2 separate regions of the Homo sapiens genome follow, and region 1 is linked to region 2. The links come from fine-mapping of genetic effects on gene expression. Tissue or cell type: whole blood. Region 2 holds a variant in brackets; the other region holds the start of a gene. All regions are shown on one strand. Distances are from middle to middle.

Evidence for each region. PIP is the estimated chance that this variant, and not a neighbour inherited with it, causes the effect.
Region 1: it holds the start of TEAD3, and the variant in region 2 is fine-mapped to the expression of TEAD3 in whole blood (TOPMed, PIP above 0.99).

The regions. Positions count from the first base shown.
Region 1 is chr6:35,492,395-35,500,394 of GRCh38, forward strand. It overlaps TEAD3 (TEA domain transcription factor 3), which reads right to left and starts at 4,685. Exons shown (of 13, transcript NM_003214.4): 1 at 4,504-4,685. It overlaps TULP1 (TUB like protein 1), which reads right to left. Exons shown (of 15, transcript NM_003322.6): 14 at 7,587-7,758; 15 at 5,480-6,066. The coding sequence ends at 5,933. LOC124901309 (a long non-coding RNA gene) reads left to right here and starts at 5,739. Exons shown (of 2, transcript XR_007059561.1): 1 at 5,739-5,813. RefSeq lists enhancers at 1-432, 1-503, 2,929-3,714, 4,661-5,591, 5,592-6,521 and silencers at 4,493-4,542, 4,723-4,852, 4,863-5,192.
Region 2 is chr6:35,441,597-35,449,596 of GRCh38, forward strand. It overlaps the pseudogene MKRN6P. Among named protein-coding and RNA genes, the nearest start is that of FANCE, 6.7 kb to the right of the region's middle. The variant C/T (reference allele first, on the strand shown) is at 3,743.

The sequences.
Region 1 (8,000 bases), 51 kb after region 2:
GTAGCCATGCTCTGGGGCAGCAGAGCAAGTAGGGATGTATCTGTCTCCCCCACCTCCAGCCCAAGGACCCCGGAGGGACCCTGCCAAGCAGCCACACCCTGCCAGGCTGGGGAGGGCTTCCCTCCTTCCTGGAACAGGGTCTCAATTTTTACAGGAGGAAGCAATTTGCAGAGCCCACTAGGAGGGAGGTGGGGGCCCCTCCACTCTCTCCCCACCCCCCGCCCTGCTTATTAATGTGCTTCCAATTTGGGACTGGAGATTCTCTGCCCCTCCTCCCCACACTACTTGGGAAAGGGGCTTTCTCAGGGAGCAGAGGGGGTTGGGATAGTCCCCCCAGGCCTCCTTCTGCAAAGCTCATCTCATCTGTTGTCACGCTCCTGCTCCCTGAAGCAGTATAGCGGGTAGGAGGGTGGAGACTCAGCCCTCAAGTCCCCTGTAGAGAGAAGGGCCCAGTTTCCAGACCTCCCTTCACCCCCTCCCTGGGACTGACTTATCTCCTCATCTTGTCCTGGTCCCAGGGTGGGAATCTCAGGTATCCAGTGAGAGACAGACTATAGGGGGTCACTGGGTTTCTCAGTTCTCAGTTACCATGCCAGACTCCTGGTACTCTGGGTCGCCCACTGGGCTCCCACCAGCCACTCAGTCAGTGCCCTCATGAGAGTCACGGTGTCATCTAAGAACAAATAGGTTTCCTCTGCGCCCTTCCTCTCGCTCGCATACACAGTTGCGTCACAGCCACTGTCCTGCTCATTCACTGTTACCCGCATCTCTCTCCTGCTGGGTTTTTAAAAATGTCTTTATTGTGATAAAATATACATAACATCAAGTTTACCATTTTAGCCATTTCTAAGTGTACAATTGAGAGGCATTAATTACATTCCTTCTTTGTTTTTATCAGTGTCTTTCTCATTGTCTTCCACATAGATGCCACACGTCAGGGACCACAGGCCCCCAAAAGCATCCCACAGAGCCTCCTACACGCCCTGCCTGGCACAGCCCTGGGGGTGTCACCCACACTACCCGAGAGTCCCAAACACGCTCAGATAGTGACCACCCACCCACAGCGCCAGCATCAGTCACGCCCCACGGTTTCTCTCACATACGGTGTCGCTTTCTGGTGCTCAGTGTCACCCACACACCGCATACCATATTCATGCTTGGCACATGTCGGATGGGGCCCACCTTGCTGGTACACACATCATACTGACACAGAGCTGGTCATGTTGTTTTACTCGCATGTAGTGTCACATGTAAGTCACACACAGACAAACCTGAGGCCATCTCACATGCTGCGTCACAACATGCAGGTCACAAGTGGTCACACCACAGCGTAACACATCACACAGATCGCCACTCATCCGGCTTCTCACGCACACGCGCCCGCGCGCTCACATACACACAGCATCGTGCGAGTGCGGTGTCCTTCACACGCAGGTCACTTGAGCATCAGAGCCACACCCAGTGTCATCTCCAGGTACACACAGATGGCTAGGCAGCCAGCTTCCTTCATCGGCACATCCTGGGTGATGCCCTGGCACACACAGAACATCCCCCATGCAGGTTCTCAGGTACAGAGGTGGCGGCACACCTGGACACATGAAGAGTCACCCAGTTTCTCTTATGGACGTGTATATCTGTCACACACACGAATGTCACAAAGCCACAGTTTCTCTCCTGCATACACCCAGCCCTGCACAAGTTGCTCTGACCAAGGTTCTCTTCCACACACATCCAGCCCCACAGAAGACAAGTCTCACCCACATAGAATGTCCCACTCATGGCTTCTCTCACACACATCCAGCGTCACACACAGTTGCATTCTCATTTCCCTCTAACACTTCCTGCCCTTTCAGGCCTGGCAGGGAGCACAGGAAACAATCGGCACTCTAGGAAACCCCAAGGGCTGAGGCTTTAGGGATGTGCAGGGGGATGAACCTCTCTGGCCCTAACCTCAACCTCCTGTGGGTCGGGGAAGACAGGCAGAGCCCTTTCCCTGGCAGGGTTCTCCCTGGAGGGAAGTGGCCCCTTCTGCAGACAGCCCAGGGCTGGCACAACACCAGGAGGGGAGGGGAGGGAAGGCAGGGCAAGGCCCCAGGGACAGTGCCGAGTGTGACCTGCTGACCTCCCCAGCTCTACCCAGAGGCAGATCCTCAGGGCCACCCCTGGGACCCCACAGCTTCTGCAGCCCCCATGTGGGAAGAAGAGGCTGCGACCTCCTAGCCCCTTCACAGAAAGCTGCAGCGTTTAGACCCCTGGGCTCCTCTCCCCATCCTGGGCGGGGAGGAGGAGGAGGGCAGGACCAGCGATTTCCACACTGAGCCCTGGGACCCCCACAGGTGTCTGGGAGTGGGGCAGAGGGTAGAGCCACCCAAGCGGCCTCTGAGCACCCTTTGTGCCATTCAGCCCTAACAGAACCCATGACCACTTCAGAGGCAAGATCCCCCAATCCACCAAGCCCCCCTGTCCCTTGACACCTGCCCCCCGCCACCTTTTCAGCCCTGTTCATCTGGCTGAGCTACTCCTCAGTCACCCCTTGGTTTGTCCTTGCCTTCTTCTTTGGGCCACTGGATCACCCACCCGCCTCTCCAGACCCCACCAAGTTCAGGTTCCATCATGGGAGAAGGAAGGCAAACTGGGAGACAGACTCTGGGAGGAGCTCAGAGAAAAGGGACTTGAGAAGTCATTCATTCCAAGCAGGGAAACTGAGGCCCAAAGGGGCCTGCCAAGATGGCGCAACTGGTTAAAGGTCCGGAGGGGACCAGATCCCTATTTCTTGACCACCTCTGTTGAGATATCTTCTCCTTTGATATTGTTGAGAATATCAAATCCTCCCGGTTTTAACATTCCTTCAGTTGGCAGAAAGTGCCAGGGTCTACAAACCTTTGGGTGAGGATGGGAGCAGGGCTCAGGACCCATGTGATGCTTCTGTACACTTAATGTGCTGCTCTGTCCTGGCAACCACTGACCACTCTAACAAGCCATTCCCCAGCCCAGATGCGCTCATTAGCATTAATGACGTTCCCTCCCTGGGGGGGTAGGGGAAGGCCCAAGAGCTTGGGACTCATACTGGCTCCTACCCTCTCCCTGAGGAGGGGGCATCCAGGGCCCCTGAAGTTACCCTTACTGGACAGCCTTGTCCTGGAAGATCTGTGCACTCTGCCCACTGGGTGAGCAGGGACCCAGAAGACCACAGAACCACATCCTTTAGGGAGTGCCCCTACGAGAGGGGTCTTGGTGGGAGGGGGGCTACAGGAGTCTAGAAGGGAGAGGACATAATTCCCCCAAATCTCCAACTTTTGAGGAAAGCCTCCCCTCCTTGCCCCAGGTGGCCCCAGCACTGGGGTGGAACATGTGTACAGAGAACCAGGCCACAAGAGACTGGATACGCAGAGCCGCTATGGGCACCAGCCCCTCTGAGCTGTGTCCAGCCCCTACCCCTATGCCCTGTTCTTCCGGACAACAAGTCCAGGCCTGACCTGGTTCTGCCCCTACCTGGAAAGAGGGAAGACACAGAAGAAGACAGCCCCTGAGAAGTCCGCCCCAAGGCCTCCTTCCCCCTCGCACTGAAAGAATCTCTCAGCCCTGGATCAGGGCCCCTCACCAGGAAAGTTGACAGAGCGGGGTCTCAATGACACTGCCCCAGGGCCCAGCTGGGCTGGAAAACAGATCCAGACCAGCGCTCCCAGCCCTCCCTCCCCTAGCAGGAATAAAGGGCATGACAGACAATGGTGGGGACCGGGGTAGGAAGCGGGAGACCAGCCACCCTCAAACCTTGTCAAGTCTAAACAAGGGCCCTGAGCAAGTGTGGGGAAGAAAAGGCCCCAAATCCAGACCCCTCCGAGCCAAGCTCACAGCGCTCAGGGCTGGAACTCTGAATCAGCACCCCGACGCAGGCGGCAGAACTGAAGGGAACGTGAGCCCCTCCCTGCCTCTCAGGGGACACACGGCCGGGGCGCGCGGCTTTGGTCCCAGACACCCTCCACAACCCAGCGCAGCCGCGGCACCGCGCGCAGAAACCGGCCTGGGCGCTGGGAGGCCGGGCCCGAGGCCTGCGTGGAGCTGAGGCCGGGCGGGCTCCGGGAGCGCGCGGGCCGGGAGTCCAAAGGGCGGCGGGGCCCGGGACTGGGCGCCCCGGATATGAGCTCCAGGGTGGCAGGCAGGCCCTCCACACTGTGCGGCCCCCGGATCCCCGCCCCGACCCCCCAAGCACGGACGGCGGGACAGGCGACGGCACAGGGGACACGGTCTCCCCGGCTTCCCCACCTTCCCGGACCAACTCGTCCCCGTCGCGGGGGGGTGGGGAGGGCGGGGGGCGGGGCTTCCCGGAGAGATTTTCCCCCTTCCCTCTAAACTTCCCGGCACCCCGATCCGGGGCTCCAGCTCCGGCTGGACAATAGCTCGGGGACCCAGTCCCCCTCGAGTGTCGCCCCCCCAGCCAGCCCAGCCGACCAACCAAACCACCTCTCCCGAGCGGGGCCTCCTCCCGGCGTCCGCCCGGCTTACCTGGTCCGAGCTCGCGGGGGCGCTCCGGCCGGGCCGCTCCGCCGGGCCCGAGGGAGCCGCAAGGGGGGCCGGGGAAGGGGGGTCGTGGGGAGGGGGCTGGCCGGAATGTGCGGAATGAGCCGGGCTGGAGCGGGAGGCGCCGAGCGCGGAGGAGGGAGCGAGCGGGACGGAAAGTTTGTGTTGAGGAGCCGGGGCGGGGGTGGGGGCTGCGGGAAGGAGGGGGCGGGGCGCGCAGGGGGCGGTGCTGGCCGGGAGGGGCGGGGCCGTCCAGCCGCGCTCGGGCCGCCTACCCCGCGGCCTCGCGACCCGGCCACCCCGGCTGGCGCGCGCCTGGGCGCCCCGCTCCTCGCCCGCCCGTGCGGAGCTGCCTTCCTCCCCCTGCGCTCCGGGCCTCGCCCCGCTCCCGGGCACCCGCCGGAATTTGGGGCTCCGGCCTGGGGCGGGGCCGAGGGCGGAGCCCTCGCCTCGCGGGCAGGGCTCCCGTCGGTGCCGGGGGCCGTGGGTGCCGCGTCACGAGGAGCCCGGCAGAGCCGGAGCGCACGGGCCCCGGGGCTCCCGGCCCCTCCACCCTAGTCCCGAGCCGCCAAGGCGGAGCGTACCCTCCAGCTCGCGGGCCTGCCCCCCACTCCCGGGGCCCCAGACCCGGCTCCGCCCTGGCGGCTGCGCCCGCCCTGCCGGGACCCGGTTTGTCTGGTTCTCCCCGCGTGGCTAGTTTCTCGAATTTCTTCTCCCTTTCTCCCTCTTCCCCGACCTCCGGGACCCTCCCTTTCGCCCCGGCTCCCCGGGCCCCCACGGGGGGCGTCTCGACGCTGTGCGGCCGCCGAGTTTCGGTAGGACCCGCGACGGGCGCGGGGAGGGGACGCGGGAGCGCCCGGGGCCTGGGCAGGAGTGGGACGGGGGTTGAGACTTCCAGCTCGCGCCTCGGACGCCTCCTGCCGCCTCGTTCTCCGCACGCGCTGAGGAACCACCGCTCCGCTTGGCCAAGGACGCGGCTTTATTGGGGATGTGGGTGCCTGGCCCTCGTCCCCCATCACCTACCCCCTCCTCCTAGCCCGCCCCAGCTCCTCGGAGCCCTAGCGCGGTCCCGGGGAGAGGGGAGGTTAAAACAACAATGACTACTGCTCCCGGACAGGAAGTGACTGGGGCGCGGGGAGGAGGGGGGCACAGCGGCGCAGGCGAGCTCCGAGACCAGATGTGCGGCTCCAACTCCAGATGTTCTTCATCTCCGTCCTACCCGCCGTCCGGGCTCCTCCTGCCTCGGCCTGTGCCAGGCTGGGGAGAGGACGGAGGTCACCGAGAGGCAGTGAGAGGTCAGCCCCGACACAGGAGCAGTTTTCCGCGGGAGCTTTGCTGGAGGGACCCTGCCAGCCTCCACTGAATCCTTTCCCCCACGCTGACGGGCTCTGGGGGCGCTGAGGGGCTGCTGGGGTCACTCGCAGGCCAGCTTCCCGTCGAAACTGGAGAGGGCGATGGCGAAGGCCTGCAGGGCGCACAGCGGGTACCGGTAGTCTAGGGTGAAGGCGTCCTCCGCCACGCGGCCGAACTGCAGCACGATATAGTCGGCTATGGACACAAGACGGGGTGGGGGCGGCCCGAGACCTCCTTGGACCCCCATCCTGGCAGACAGTGCCCTCAACCTTGGGGGCAGTCTGTCCCTTGCCTTGGGGCTCCAACCCTCAGCCACCATCTCAGTTACTCAACACCCATCCCTTCTTCTATCTCACTCCACACCAGCACCACGTGGCTTTGCAGTCACACTATAATCTCCTGGGGGCAGGGACCTTGCCTTTCTGCTGCTGCCACAGGCCATGCCTAGAGCCCGCACCTGATTAACTATAGGACCCTGTCAAATTTATCCAAGCCCAGCATTCTTCCTTCCCAAATTCTCTGTTGTTTCTGGCCACAGTCTTTCCTCCTATCCCCAGCCACGAAGTCCCACCTTAGACCCCAGCTCCACCCCTTGACTAGCCCCTGGTTCCCTTCCTCAGCCTCACTGGGCACCTCTCCCTTCAATGATCCAGGTTCCCAGCCCCAACCTCAGCACCTCCCCCAGGATCCATAGGGACAGGAAGTTGCTAAAAATACCCCCAAACTCAGGTGGACGAGGCTCCACCAGAAACGTGATCTGGAGAGCAGTCCCACAGCCACAGGACAGGTGGCACTGGGGGCACATCCCTAGGATGCAGTTGGGGCTCGCTCAATGTTGGTCCAACCCTGTGAACCCAGAGACTTATGGGAGATACCCTTCCATCCCCAAACTTCCTCACCCTAGTGGGAAGGAAGCCTTTCCAACCAAGGCTTGTAACAGGGACACCTTGTTTCCCTGAGTCTTCCAGGGTAGTCCTTTGACCTCACTTGAGAGAAGACACAGAGTAGGCACTCAAAAATGCTTAATATTCCCTGCCCCTAAAAGGCAACCATCTTGAAGAGATTAAGAGCATGGCCACTGGAGATCCAGACTGTCAGCTCTACCTCCTACTAGTGATGTGACCGTGGGCAAGTTGCTTAACCTCTCTGTGCCTTAGTTTCCTGCCAAATAGGGATAATAATGGCACTCTTCACAGGGACGTTGAAGGGATTTAATGATTCAGTTATCTGTAAAATCCTGAGAACAGTGCCTGGCACATAGTAAACACTGTGTAAGTTTTGTGAAATAAATTTCGAGGGCCAGTGTAACTTCCTGAAGTTGCTGAGAGACTCTGGGCAAAGGGCTGCCCTCTCTGAGCCTCAGCACTCTCTTTGAACAAAGAGGAGTTGGGCTGTCCGTGGTTTTCAGACTCTAGGAGCCAACCCTCCCTTCAACACAATCTTATCCAGAATGTCCCAGTATCTAACCCACTGCTCTGGCCAATGCTGGAATGGGAACCTGAAGTGATGAGCCCCAAGACACCTGCTTAGAATATCTGAGGCTCCTGAGAGCACAGTGTCAGTGCCTATGGAGGAGAGAGTGACCCTGTGGGATGTCCCAGCTCTCGGGATAAAGGCTGGTGTGTGTGTGTGTGAGGGGGTGAGGGGAGCTTGAATGAAGGTCAGCATCCTGGGGGTGGTGGAGAAGAGCCAGACCTGGGCCCTCAGGTACTCACGGTCATCAGCGTGGACAATCTGGAAGTTCTTGACTGAGGCCTGGGTGACCCGGCCTTGGAAGTTGAGGGTGTAGGAGCCACTGTCATCGTTCCAGACAGGTGGCTTGTTGTGCAGTTCTATGAGGCTCTCCAGCGTCTTGTTCTGCCAGCGCACCAGCAGGCCGTCACTAGCCTGGGGTGCCCCAGGGGAGTAGACAGGGAGAGGACAGTTAGAGATGGCTGAGATGGCTCAGGACTGACCGGAGAAGGGGCCTGGGCATGTGTGCACAGGGGTGTGGCCTGGACATCTTCATCCATTAGGGTATCTGAGAATAGGCTTGGCATCTGTGGCATCCTTGTGGACAGGGTTCACATCTGTGAGAATGGGGCTTTGTCTCTGGGATGTCAAAGCGGAGGGCTGGAAAATGGCAAGGG
Region 2 (8,000 bases):
TGGACACTGAGGAGACTCTCACTAAATGCTTGCCCACCTCATCCTCCCCTCACCCTTCTCTACCTCCCACCTTGATTCCTCAGAGGAGGAGGGAAAGGGGGCGGGAGAGGGGAAGTGATAAGAGAAGTGATGGCAACAGCTGTCATTTACCCAGGGCTTGCTATGGGCCAGGGACTTTACAGACAGGGTCTTAAGTTTGACATCACCCCAGGAAGTAGGTCCTACTATTATCCCCATTTTACGAATGAGAAAACTGAGGCATGGAAAAGTTAGGTGACTTGTCCAAGCTTACGTAACCAAAAAGTAGTGTTACTAGGCAGAACTGGCTATATAATTTGTGGGACCCATTGCAAAATGAAAATGTGGGGCTCAAAAACTATTAATAATTTCAAGACCGGGACAGCAGAGTATTAATGCAAGTGTAGGGCCCCTGTGTGATTGTATAGGTCCCCACTGGTGAAGCCAGTCCTGGTGGTAGAATGTGAACCTAGAATTCTGACTCCAGAATCCACAACTCTACTTTTGGGGAGAGTAATAGTGATCACTGTGATCACCAAGCACCTGCTATATGCATTGTGCAAAATCTTTTTTTTTTTTTTTTTTGAGATGGAGTTTTGCTCTTGTCGCCCAGGCTGGAGTGCAATGGCACAGTCTCAGTTCACCGCAATCTCTGCCTCCTGGGTTCAAGCTATTCTCCTGCCTCAGCCTCCCAAGTAGCTGGGATTACAGGCATGTGCCACCACACCCGGCTAATTTTGTATTTTTAGTAGAGATGGGCTTTCTCCATGTGGTCAGGCTGGTCTCGAACTCCCGACCTCAGGTGATCTGCCCGCCTCAGCCTCCCAAAGTGCTGGGATTACAGGTGTAAGCCACCAGGCCAGGCTGATTGTGAAAAATCTTAAAAACCTTTACAACAACTCAGCAAGGGCTAGGCATTGTTACCACCCACCCCCCCTTTTTTTATTTTGAGATGGAGTTTCACCCTTGTTGACTGGGCTAGAGTGCAGTGGTGTGATCTCGGCTCACTGCAACCTCCACCTCCCAGGTTCAAGCAATTCTCCTGCCTCAGCCTCCTGAGTAGCCCAAGGTGCCTGCCATCATGCCTGGCTGATTTTTGTATTTTTAGTAGAGACAGTGTTTCAATATGTTGGCCAGGCTGGTCTTGAACTCCTGACCTCAGGTGATCTGCCTGCCTGTGCCTGCCATAGTGCTGGGATTATGGGCATGAGCCACCGCATCCAGCCTGTTACCCCACTCTTAAGAGTGAGGAAACCAAGCTTTAGAGAAGGTGAGTTACTCACCTAGTGTTCCCAGTGGGGTCAGGATTTGAACACCAGATGAATTCCAGAGCCTGTGTTGTTCTCACCGTATCAGACAGCCTCTGTCTGTAAGGATCACAAAGGCAGGAACTAAAACAGGGCTGGGCATGACTTAGACAATCTCTTAGGAACTTTGTTTTCCGGGCCCATCGCTGGGGGTCAAGGCATCGCTTTGCTCATGATGGAAAGGTGTCCCAGGTCTGCAAGTACTTCCAGCAAGGCTTCTGCTTCCCTGGACATCGTGGAGATCAATGCAGGTAAGTCCCTCTTCTTCCCCTCTGGGGAGTGGTGTTAGGGTGGGACACTAGAGAGATCGTCCCTTCACAAATCATGTATCTTCCCAGAGCTGCTTCTCCCAACTCAGCTCCAAGTTCTAGGCTGAGCTGGCTCTGAGCCCCGGAGGGCTGTCCCTGTCTCCTCACTCTCTTCTTCCCCACTACAGCTGTCAGCACCCAAAGACCCCCAGCCCCCTGGAGTGGGGTCGCCGCCATTCGGAGCCACATGTCACTCTGCCAGGGCCCCACCTAGGACTGGCCCGCAGGGGATCCGAGCCCACCTACCTGCCCTCTGTGGCTGTGGGCTGGGGCTGGGCCAGGGCCTGCTGGGGCATGGAGCCTGCCCTGGAGGGGCTGGCTAGCAAGGCTGAGGAGGTTGGCGGCAGCTCCTGGAAGTCCCTGCCTTCATCATGTGAGTCATCAGGGGCACCGCAGGTGGGCATAAGTGGGCACTGACACTAGAGCTCGTGCTCTGCCTCTGAGCAGGGTTTATGTTTTCATCCATTCCCCTTCCTCTTCAAGATTCCCAGCTGGAGGGAAATTTTCCTCTAGTTCTGTTGCTTTGTGTGTTCTAAAAGCAGAATACCATGGTACCAACAGAGTAAAACCCCCTAGTTCCAAATGCCCTATCCCTATACCCAGTAGCTGTGTGATCTTGGACAAGTCACTTAACCTCTCTGGGCCTTGGTTCCCTCATCTACAAAACGGCATTGATAATAATACTTAACTCACAGGCTTATTTTGAGGGTTGATATGCTTAGCACAGTACCTGGTACAGAGTATGCACTAAATGTTAGTGGCTATTTTTTATTTTATTTATTTATTTATTTGAGACAGGGTCTCCCTCTGTCACCCAGGCTAGAGTACAGTGACGCTATCTCAGCTCACTGCAACCTCCGCCTCCAGGGTTCAAGCGATTCTCCTGCCTCAGCCTCCCGAGTAGCTGAGATTACAGGCATGCACCACCATGCCCAGCTAATTTTTGTATTTTTAATAGAGACGAGGTTTCACTGTGTTGGTCAGGCTCATCTCGAACTCCTGACCTCGTGATCCGCCTGACTTGGCCTCCCAAAGTGCTGGGATTACAGGCGTGAGCCACCGTGCCCGGCCTGGCTATTTTTTAAATTATTGCTCTAAATCAATGTTATTCAGAATATAAAGAAATTTAAGTCACATATGTAATTTTTTATAACAGCTTTATTGAAATATTCACAAACCAAAAAATTCATCAATTTATACAATTCAATGCGTTAATTCACAAAGTTATGCAAACATCACTGCTACCCAATTTTAGAACATTTTTATCATCCCATTAGCAGTCAGTTTCATCCTCCCCGCTCCCAGCCTCTAGTATCCACTAATCCACATTCTGTCTCTGTGGTTTGGCTGTTCTGGACTTTTCATATGAACGGAATCTTACAATATGTGGCCTTTTGTGTCTGGCTGCTTTCATTGAGTGTGAAGTTTTCTAGGTTCGTCCATGTTGTAGCACGTATCAGTACTTCATCTTTTTTTTTTTTTTTTTTTTTTGAGACTGAGTCTCACTCTGTCGCCCAGACTGGAGTGCAGTGGCACAATCTCGGCTCACTGCAAGCTCCGCCTTCTGGGTTCATGCCATTCTCCTGCCTCAGCCTCCCGAGTAGCTGGGACCACAGGCGCCCACCACCACACCTGGCTCATTTTTTTTGTATTTTTTTAGTAGAAACGGGGTTTCACCATGTTAGCCAGGATGGTCTTGATCTCCTGACCTCGTGATCCGCCCGCGTCGGCCTCCCAAAGTACTGGGATTACAGGCATGACCCACTGCGCCTGGCCTATTTTTTATTTTTGATAGAGACAGAGTTTGCCATGTTGTCCAGGCTGGTCTCCAGCTCCTGAGCTCAAGTGATCTACCCACCTTAGCCTCCCAAAGTTTTGGGATTACAGGCGTGAGCTACCGCGCCTGGCCCTATTTTCTACTTATAGCAGGTGTCAACTCAGACTTGCCCCATTTCAGTTGCTCAAGAGCCGCATATGGCTCTTGGTTACTGTATTGAACAGCACTCTTCTAAATGGCTATAGGAGAGGCTTCTTTTTTTTTTGAGTCAGAGTCTCGTTCTGTCTCCCAGGCTGGAGTGCAGTGGCACGATCTTGGCTCACTGCAACCTC[C/T]GCCTCCTGGTTCAAGCGATTCTTCTGCCTCAGCCTCCTGAGTAGCTGGGACTATAGGCACATGCCATCACGACTGGCTAATTTTTGAATTTTTAGTAGAGACAGGGTTTCACCATATTGGCCAGGCTGGTCTCGAACTCCTGGCCTCGTGATCTGCCTGCCTTGGCCTCCCAAAGTGCTGGGATTACAGTCTGTTTTTTTTGTTTTTGAAATGAAGTCTCCCTCTGTTGCCCAGGCTAGAGTGCAATGGCATGATCTCAGCTCACTGCAACCTCCGCCTCCTGGGTTCAGGCGATTCTCCTGCCTCAGCCTCCTGAGTAGCTGAGATTACAGGCACTCGCCACCACACCTGGCTAATTTCTGTATTTTTACTAGAGATGGTTTCGCCATGTTGGCCAGGCTGGTCTTGAACTCCTGACCTCAGGTGATCCACCCACCTCGGCCTCCCAAAGTGCTGAGATTACAGGTATGAGCCACCGAGCCTGGCCTATATGAGAGGCTTCTAATTCTGACTGGTCTCTAATCCACTTGGGGGCAGGACGTGGGTTACCACAGAGTCTTGCATGCAGGAAATGCTCAGTGGTTGCCTCAGGGGTGAGTGAATGGATGCAGTTTTCCCAACAGCTGCTGACAGGGATCACGGCCACTCCCAGGAGTCTCTGCCAAAGTTCCACCTTGTCCGAGAGCTCATGGCGCCACTTCAGAGCCTGGACCTTGAGGTGCAGCAGGTTGTGGGTGAGGGGTGGCAAAAGATGGCTTTCTGGCCCTCTGGGACACCCAGATCTGCTGGGGGAGGGCTTGGTGGCCACTGAGGCTGAATGTGGGCATGCGGGTGGAGTGTCTGACCCTACCTGTGGCTGCCTGGGAAGCAGGACAGTCGGGATGTGGTGTGTGGCATCTGCATGGACAAAGTGTGGGACAAGCCAGAGGCCCAGCGGGTCTTCGGCATCCTGCCCAACTGCACCCATGCCCACTGTCTGGGCTGCCTGCGCACCTGGCGGAAGAACCGGCAGGACTTCCCGCTGGATGTCATCAAGTCAGTGTCATGGGGGTCCCAACAGGGATGGAGGGAAACACCCCAGTGAGGAGGCTGGCCTGGGGGCCTGTGACTATTCTCCCACATTCTACTCCACTGCTCAGGGCGTGTCCACAGTGCCGTGTCCATTCCAGCTACATCATCCCCCACAAGTTCTGGGTGAGCAAGGGGGCCCAGAAGGAGCAACTCATCAGGAACTTCAAGGCTCGGACCAGGTGAGGCTGCAGAGGGAACGAGACTCAGGGTTAGGGAAGTGGAGAAGGTAGCCCCTGATTCATTCTGGTTCAGCCATGGTTCCCAGCCAGTGAATCCCCAAAGCCCTGAAGTTTAGAGTGACCAAAATGGCAGGTGAAGGCATGAACTATTTTCATGATTTCAGAAAGCCCAGTTAATAAGGCCAGGCATGGTAGCTCACACCTGTAATCCCAGCACTTTGGGAGGCCAAGGCGGGCAGATCACCTGAGGTCAGGAGTTCAAGACCACCTGACCAACATGGTGAAACCCCGTCTCTACTAAAAATACAAAAATTAGCCAGACGTGATTGCAGGCGCCTGTAATCCCAGCTACTCGGGAGGCTGAGACAGGAGAATCGCTTGAACCCTGGAGGTGGAGGTTGCAGTGAGCTGAGATTGTGCCACTGCACTCCAGCCTGGGCAACAAGAGTGAAACTCTGTCTCAAAAAAAAGGAAAGAAAGCCCACTTAATAAACGGAGAGTGGCTGAGATAGCAGAAGGAACACCAGGGCCAATTTTCTCTTCTAACTTGGCTCAGAATCAACTTAGAGCAACTCTGGTTCTCTCTGCACCATGAGAAGCCTTGCTTTGGCTTTTATTTCCAATTTGTCATAAGGCAGGAAAGTAAACTGATATGAATACATGTTATTTGCTTAGCTGCTCTTTGAAAACATGGGGTGGCTGAGAAGGGGGCTGAAAGGCAGCCTTATTGGATAGGTCTGAATCTCTTGGGGAGGGTAAGCACTTATTCAAAATCTGGAATTAGCTGCAATTCCAAGTTCCTAACTCCACCTTCCCAAAGGGTTTACTACACTTGATCTATGCAAAGTGTATTTGGGTAAAGGGAGGGATAAAGAAGGAGGCCTCGTCTTCACCCAGGAGATAGTCAGGCGTGTTCTGGAGACACCTGTGAACGCTAATAGCTGCATCAACAAAATTACTGAAGGAAACACTAACTCGAGTGACTCTTACAGAAGGGGAAGTATTTAAGCTGTGCATGGGAAGAACAGGGTTCCTCAGGAGGAGAAAAAAGAGGGTGTCCCAGGCAAAGAGAGATGGAAGTGAGGAAATACAGTTGACCCTTGAACAACTTAGGGGTTAGGGGCACCGAACCCCATGCAATCGAAAATCCATATAGAATGTTGTTGTTGCTGTTGTTGTTGTTGAGACAGAGCCTCGCTCTGTTGCCCAGGCTGGAGTGCAGTGGTGCAATCTCGGCTCACTGCAGCCTCAGCCTCCTGGCTCAAGCAATCCTCCCCAGTAGCTGGTACTATAGGCGCGCACCACCATGCCTGGCTAATTTTTGTATTTTTTGTAGAGACAGGGTTTTGCCATGTTTCCCAGGCTGGTCTTGAACTGCTGAGGTCAAACGATCCACCCGCCTCAGCCTCCCAAAGTGCTGGGATGACAGGCGTGAGCCACCACACCTGGCCATGTATAACTTTTGACTCCCCCAAAACTTAACTAATAACATGCCGCTGACCAGAACCCTTTCGGACAACATAAAGTCAATTAATACAGATTTTATATGTTATATGTATTATATAACATAATATGTATTCTTACAATAAAGTGAGCTAGAGAAAAGAAACGTTAAAATCATAAAGGAGAAAATATATTTACTATTCATTAGGTGAAAGCAGATTACCATAAACGACTTGATCCTCATTGTCTTCACATTGAGTAGAAGGACGAAGAGGAGGGAATTGGTTTTGCTGTCTCCAGGATCTTGTCTGCGTATAAGCTGCCCCAGGCAATTCAAGCCTGTGTTGTTCAACAGCAACTGTACTGGCAGCTGGGCCACCAGTTGGAAGTTTCCCAAGGGGAGCGCTCAGGACTGGATGTGATAGGAGATGGTGTAGATGGAGGTTTATTGTGTGACAGGCTTTGTATCTCGTAAACTGCATGAGGCAGGGACTCTTACTATCCTCATACTGTAGAAGAAGAAACTGAGGGGCTGGGCACGGTGGCTCACACCTGTAATCCCAGCACTTTGGGAGGCTGACGGGGAGGAACTCTTGAGCCCAGGAGTTGAGACCAGCCTGGGCAACATGGTGAAGCCCCATCTCTACAAAAAATATAAAAATTAGCCAGGCATGATGGCACACGCGTGCAGTCCCAGCTACTCAAGAGGCTGAGGCAGGAGGATCACCTGAGCCCCAGGAGGTCAAGGCTGCAGTGAGCGTAATCATGCCATTGCACTCCAACCTGGGTGACAGAGCAAGAACCCTGTCTCAAAAAAAAAAAAAAAAAAAAACAAAAAGGCCGGGCACGGTGGCTCACACCTGTAATCCCAGCACTTTGGGAGGGCAAGGTGGGTGGATTATCTGAGGTCAGGAGTTTGAGACCAGCCTGAGCAACATGGTGAAAACCCGTCTCTACTAAAAATACAAAAAAATTAGATGGGCGTGGTGGTGGGTGCCTGTAATCCTAGCTACTTGGGAGGCTGAGGCAGGAGAATCGCCTGAACTTGGGAGATGGAGGTTTCAGTGAGCCCAGATCATGATACTGCACTCCAACCTGGGCAACAAATGTGAAACTCCATCTCAAAAACAAAAAAAAGTCTGGTATAGTGGTTCACACCTGTAATCCCAGCACTTTGGGAGGCTGAGGTGGTTGGATAACCTGAGGTCAGGAGTTCAAGACCAGCCTGGCCAATTTTGTGAAACCCCACCTCTACTAAAAATATGAAAATTAGCTGCACGTGGTGGCATGCACCTGTAGTCCCAGCTACTCGGGAGGCTGAGACAGGAGAATTGCTTGAACCCCAGAGGTGGGTGTTGCAATGAGCCGAGATTGCACCACTGCACTCCAGCCTGGGTGACAGAGCAAGACTCCATCTCAAACAAACAAACAAACAAAAAACCCAAAAAACAAACAAAATAAACCAGAAAAATGAAAGGAGGTTCCCAGGGCCGCTGCTGTTGCTGGCTCAGAGACTGAGAAGTACAGAAAGGGGCCCCTTAAGATACTTTACTGCCATCTGCTG